Linked DNA regions of Homo sapiens: region 2 is linked to region 1. Evidence: fine-mapped expression QTL. A gene starts in region 1. The other region holds a variant in brackets. All regions are shown on one strand. Distances are from middle to middle. Region 1 holds the start of HERC3 (HECT and RLD domain containing E3 ubiquitin protein ligase 3). Region 2 overlaps HERC3 (HECT and RLD domain containing E3 ubiquitin protein ligase 3).

Region 1 (2,910 bases):
ATTCCCTGGAGCTCATGCTGCATACACATATTCCGTGCACAGTCGCATTAGGTACTGTCTCCATAGGCTCACCTGTTTCAGGTTACACATGCTCCTCTCGGTCTGGTTGCCCTGGTTTGCCCACTCCACACATTCACAAATGACTCAAGTCTCACCTGCCCCCGGCCGTCCCAGCTCCTGACACCCCCGCGTCGGTCCGCACCGACGTGTCGGCGTACACACACACACACACCCGTACACACGTGTCCGCACACACCCTCGCCCCCGGCCCCGCCCAGGAGGCGGACCCGGGAGAGGCGAGCCGGCCCGGCCTCCGCGAAGTGGGTGGTGCCGGGCCCCGCAGCCCTGCCGGCGCTGTCATCGCGGACGCCGTGCACCGCGTCCTCGGCGCAAACTCCTCGCGGCCGCTGAGGTTCCCCAAAATGCCAGGGCCTCGCCAGCTCCCATTTCAATTGAAAGCGTCCGCGCCCCTCACTGCACGGAGGTCCCTGGAACCCCAGAATTTAAATAGGGGCAGGGGGCGAGCATAGGGACTATCCTCCTTTTGACTTTCTGCGTCGCAATTCCTCCCGGGCGGCAGGGCGGGAGGGCGGCCGAGCGCGGGCGGGAGGCGCTCCCATTTTGAAGGCTTGTCTCGCCTTTCCCGGCGCGGGGCTCTCTGACCGGAGGGCGAGCCCACGAGAACGCCAGGGAGGCGTACGCAGGGTACTAAGGGCGCCGCGCCCCAACCTCCCCGCGCCCCAGACCCAGGTCGTCTCTGGAGGTGCCTGCAGCCCCCGCCGCCGGAGCCACGGGAGGAGCCGCAGCCGCCCCTCCGGGAGCCGCGCGCTGACTGCAGTGCCAGGCGGAACGCGGCCCAGCGCGGCTGCAGCTCCGCCGTACCCCCCTCCCTGGAACCCCGGCCCCCGCCCTGCGCACCTCGGCAGCAGCCGAACCGCAGCTTGGGACTCCGACTGTCACAGCCCCTCTCGCCGGACCCGGGGTTTCTCCGTTTTCGGCGTCACAATAATAAGGAAGTTTCCCCGCAAGCCTGCGGGCGGCGGAATGCGCTGGGTGAATGGCTTCGCACCGGGCCAATGGGCGCCGTTCTGGGATGGGCCCGCGCCAATGGCGGCCGCCGTGGCACGGGCTGGAGGCGGGGCGGCAAGGTCCGCGGGCAGGAGGAGGGGAGAGGCCCAGGCCCCAGAGCCAGGCGCAGGCTGCCCGAGGTGACAGGACTCGAGGGCCCGGCGCGGGGACAGCGGCACGGGTGTGTCAGCCGAAATCGGACTGCAAGACATAGAGCGTTGACGCTGAAATAAGATTGCTTTTCACTGGCGGGGAAGCGAGCTGGACCGATCAGCGGTTGCCTATTCAGGTTCTGGACTCTGGTTTTTATTATTTATGAAGAGGTGACCGAAAGCCTTGGGCACGGGGGAAAAAGCTGGAGGGTGACAATTGAGGGAGAGTGCGCTAGTCTTCTGCTTTACTCCCCTTCGTAGGACTGTAGGAAGCGCGGCGCCGGCCCGCGGCGCTGCGCGGTGGGAGAGGCGGGGAAGGAGGTACGCGGCAGCCGCCGGCGCTCTTCTGGAGAGGTGGGGATCGAAGACCGGCACGGGGCTGCGGAAGAAAGGCGGGCCTGGGGGAGGCTGGAGGGTGGACCCGGGGGGAGCATAGCAAGAAGAGTCTGAGCACCAGATCTTAAAATCTTGTAATCTGAAAGACACTCTGTGGCCTATACCCAGTAACGGATTTTTTAAAAGTTTGTCCTCTTCCACTTTTCCCTAGCGCCGAATCCCAGAGCTTCCTCCCCCTCCCCAAGGTCACTAGTGCTTTCATACTTGCCCTAGACCTGATCTGATCCACAGCTAATCTTTTGCAGAAAACCTCAGAAAGGTGACTTCATGTGTCTGCCCCCCTTAAATGTAAAATGCAGAACACTGGCACGGTACTGCTTTAATCCAAAGGAATAACTCTCCCAGTGGAAGAATTTCTATAACCTGGCATTTGAAGCAGGAAGGCCCTTTGAGGATAGATTCTTACCAAGGACATTCAAATCACCTCAGGTCTGCAATCGCTCGTCCTGAGAACCTAACAGACTGACCAAGTAGAAAAGAAAGTTTCAAGGAGTGGTGTATCCTGGGGATGAGACGTTGTTGGCTGACTGACAGTGTTGAGCCCTCCGTGAAATAATGCAAATTGTCCAGTACACTGAGACAAGAAAGCTAAAAAAGCAGAATCTAAGTTATCAGGTCATCTAAGAAAAAATCCAAACCTTTGAAATTTGGATCACACTTGACACGTTTAGAAACACTGGGGATGGCCAGGCGCGGTGGCCCATGCCTGTAATCTCGGCACTTTGGGAGGCCGAAGCCGGTGGATCACTTGAGGTCAGCAGTTCGAGACCAGCCTGGCCAACATGGTGAAACCTTGTCTCTACAAAAAAAAATACCAAAATTAGCCGAGTAGGGTGGTGTGCGCCTGTAGTCCCAGCTACTCAGGAGGCTGAGGCAGGAGAATCACTGGAACCTGGAAGGCGGAGGTTGCAGTAAGCTGAAATCAAGCCACTGTACTTACTCCAGCCTGGGCAACAGAATGAAACGTTGTCTCAAAAAAAAAAAAAAAAGAAAGAAAAAGGAAAAAAGAAACACTGGGGACAAGAGTAACACAATTCACTTATATTCCAGATATGTGGCAGTTTCACAAAAGTTTAGTCTATTACAAAGATGCAATCCCAATTTAGAGATGCTGTTGGCAAAAGAACTGGTTAAATGCCCAAAGAGGAGTCTGGTAGGAAGACGAAGGAGTCCGGTACTTGCAAAGGAGAAAGTGAGAGATCCTATTGTTAGGTGTCACATATGAGGTTTGTAATCAATCAGTGTTTGGGTTGATATGTCTGGCCCATGGCTCAAGTGTTTTTCTTTTTTTGTT
Region 2 (2,910 bases), 120 kb before region 1:
TCTCCCTGCAGGCTCCTACCACCTCCACTCACTCCCCCTACCTCTCCTCAGATACTCTTCTCTAGTTCTGCTGCTGCCACTGTCACTGCTGTCTCAGCTCCTGTCTTTCTGCTTCAGTCCTTCCCACCTCAATACCTCCAGATTTAGACCATCCACATTTTCCTTCTTAAGACCCGGCTCAGGTCTTATCACCCTCAAGTTCTGAACATTGAAACAAATCCTACTTGGCTACTACTAAAGTTCCAGTGTTAGGCTAGTTCCTCAGCCCCAAATCTACCTTCTTTCTCCCAAGTCTTACTTACCATTATTTACTATTATTTGCCTATTTCCTCTGATGTTCCCTTCAAACTGTTCTTGGCTCTTGCCTAAATATGCCCCAATGTTTGAGCCTTTGCTAAAGCATCCCTCTCCATGAGAAACACCTTTTCGTCCATCCCAACCTTCAAAAACTTCATTCTTCCTTAATGCCATCTGCTCCTTGCCCCTGCTTTCTTCTCCATTTCTGCAGCACTTGGCTCTACTTTCTTATGCAGGAATCAAATCTGACCTTCTATTAGATTATCTGAGTATACGACCTAATGCTTCTACTAAAAGCAAGCTATCCATTCTGCAAGTACAATAAGAAATAGTTTTAAGTTAAAACACCAAATTTATTGCATAATATTGAACTATATGCACACACATAGAAAATAAACATTTCATATAACTGTATATATATTTTTAATCCTGTATTTATAAAGACTGAAAAACTACCAATTTAGCAATTGGAATAAGTTTTAAAAACAAAAAGAAAAAGCAAAAATCTACAATCCTTCATCAAGATTTGATGCTTTATCACAGTTCATAAATACTTCATTTTATATAAATAAGTCTTTTCTCTAGTTACTAGGAATTTAAAATTAGACTTACATGGATTCTTTAATCATGTAGAATTTTCTTACTCCATGATGAGGAAGGTTGAGCATGTCATTATTTTTAAAATACATATATTTGATTTAAACACAATCCCCCCTAAAATCCCACTGTAAACAAACATTTCGAATGTGATAAAGTTTCATAATAAAGAACGTCCTTAAATCTTAGCAATTAGGGAAGAGGAAAAAAAATCTGAGTAAAAATTTTGCAATTTAAATAAAAATTGAAAAAAAGGCTGCATGCATCCACTAGAAGGAGAGGAGAGGAAGGGAGCACTGAGTCAAGTAACAGAGAATGGGATAAAATAAAGAAGAAACGAAAGGAAAATCAGGGAGGAC[A/G]CAGGGTACGAAAAGGAGAAAATAAGGGAAGGGAGGAAGGAGAAAATGGTAGAGGACATAAGGTGATAGAAAAAGGGAAAGTAAATTTATTATTTCTACTTTTCTTGGACAATATAGAGACTCAAAATAGTTAATGCAACTTGCTCCAAAAGCGAGAGTGCAAGAGGTGGTGGGTCTATCAATTAACCTTATTGTCAAAGGGACAAGGATGAGCAAGAAAAAATTAGGCTCAGCTGCAACGAATGCTAAGCTGCTCTGCACATCTTTTAAAAGGTCTAGGAAATAGGCACAGCCATGGGAAAGTTGCTATTCCCTCAAGAACTTTTTAAAAGCAAGATATGTTTATATAGGCTCCCATAAATTCTTAGGAGTTCTGCCAAAATAATGGACCCAGACTCAGCTTTTTGGAATTGGGAGTTTCTGAAGCAGTCCTTTCCTCCTTTGGGTTAAAGGAGGGCTGCAACAAGCCAGAGGCATTTCCAAGTGTACAGAGGAAGGTGATGTTCTCGCATGCGCAGATAAAAAAGGACAGGTCAGTCTAAATCATTCTTATAGAGGAATGAGAAGTTAAGAGAAGGACAAGGAAGCACTGTGAGAAAACATCAGGGCTGAGAGAGACATTTGGGAAATTAAAGTTTAAAAATCCACTGCCATTTCATCCAGCAGAGTGCAACACATTCACAAGTGCAAGGAATACTGGGTAGTTTGGTTTAAAACAAAAACAAAAACACCTCCCATACAAGGGCCAATTTTTCACCCCATCCCCAACCTCTAATTTTTCAAAAAGGTTGTTTACTGCTATACAATCCCAGAAACACATCAACCAGGCTCAGTATTTAAAAGTCCCAACCCACTTAGACAATAAAAAAATAGAAATCACTCCCCATGATTTTCTGTATAGGCCTCAATGTGGACACTGAGGAACGAAGGGAAATACTGGACAAGCTGAGAAGCCTCAGGCCAAACTAAACCCTTCATAGTTGTCAAGGGCCTGGGTCAGCCGGGCACTCAGAATCTCTTTGCTGCTGTACTTGGGGAGGTCAAGAAGGTTGTAGCAAGTGTGGGCCACCGGCAAGTACTCCTCCCCGCTGGCTGTGGACTGGATGACAATCTGCAGACTGGCCATGCCGTAGATGGGAATCCGATCGCTGCCTGTCAGGAACACTGGGGAGAACGAGAAATGGCATTAGCAGCTAAGCAAACGGAAAATGGATCTCAGAGATCCTTCTGGCAACAGGAGAGGAAGGCATGACACCCTGTGGCTTGCATGAGAAGTACAATTACATTTATGTGCCAATATGCATCCTGTGGAATGAAAATTAGATGCCGTTAAGAAAAAAAAAAGGCCTCAATCAAATGTACACCCTCACAAATGTTAGATTTCACAAAATCAAAGAGGGAAGGAATTGCTGTCATAGGAAAAGAGGAGCTGATCTTAAGGGGAAAACAGAAGAAGACTGAAGTCTCTGACCTCAGGGTCTCCTCTCACCTCAAGTGCCTGATGCCTGTACCACCTTGTCTACGGAATTCCATTTAGGATCTATTTGCTCTCCTTTCCACGTCTCCATTTTTCTTAAACCCGAAGAGCTGACCCAAACATTATGTTAGACATTGCACTCTTGTGACATGCACTGTGACTTGGCAAAAGAGAGAGAGG

The links.
Region 2: its variant is fine-mapped to the expression of HERC3 in whole blood (TOPMed, PIP 0.99).

Annotation. Positions count from the first base shown.
Region 1 is chr4:88,590,583-88,593,492 of GRCh38, reverse strand. HERC3 (HECT and RLD domain containing E3 ubiquitin protein ligase 3) reads right to left here and starts at 1,013. Exons shown (of 26, transcript NM_014606.3): 1 at 919-1,013. RefSeq lists silencers at 1-397, 718-1,277, 1,448-1,507.
Region 2 is chr4:88,706,259-88,709,168 of GRCh38, reverse strand. HERC3 (HECT and RLD domain containing E3 ubiquitin protein ligase 3) reads right to left here. Exons shown (of 26, transcript NM_014606.3): 26 at 630-2,417. The coding sequence ends at 2,209. Among named protein-coding and RNA genes, the nearest start is that of FAM13A-AS1, 2.1 kb to the left of the region's middle. The variant A/G (reference allele first, on the strand shown) is at 1,254.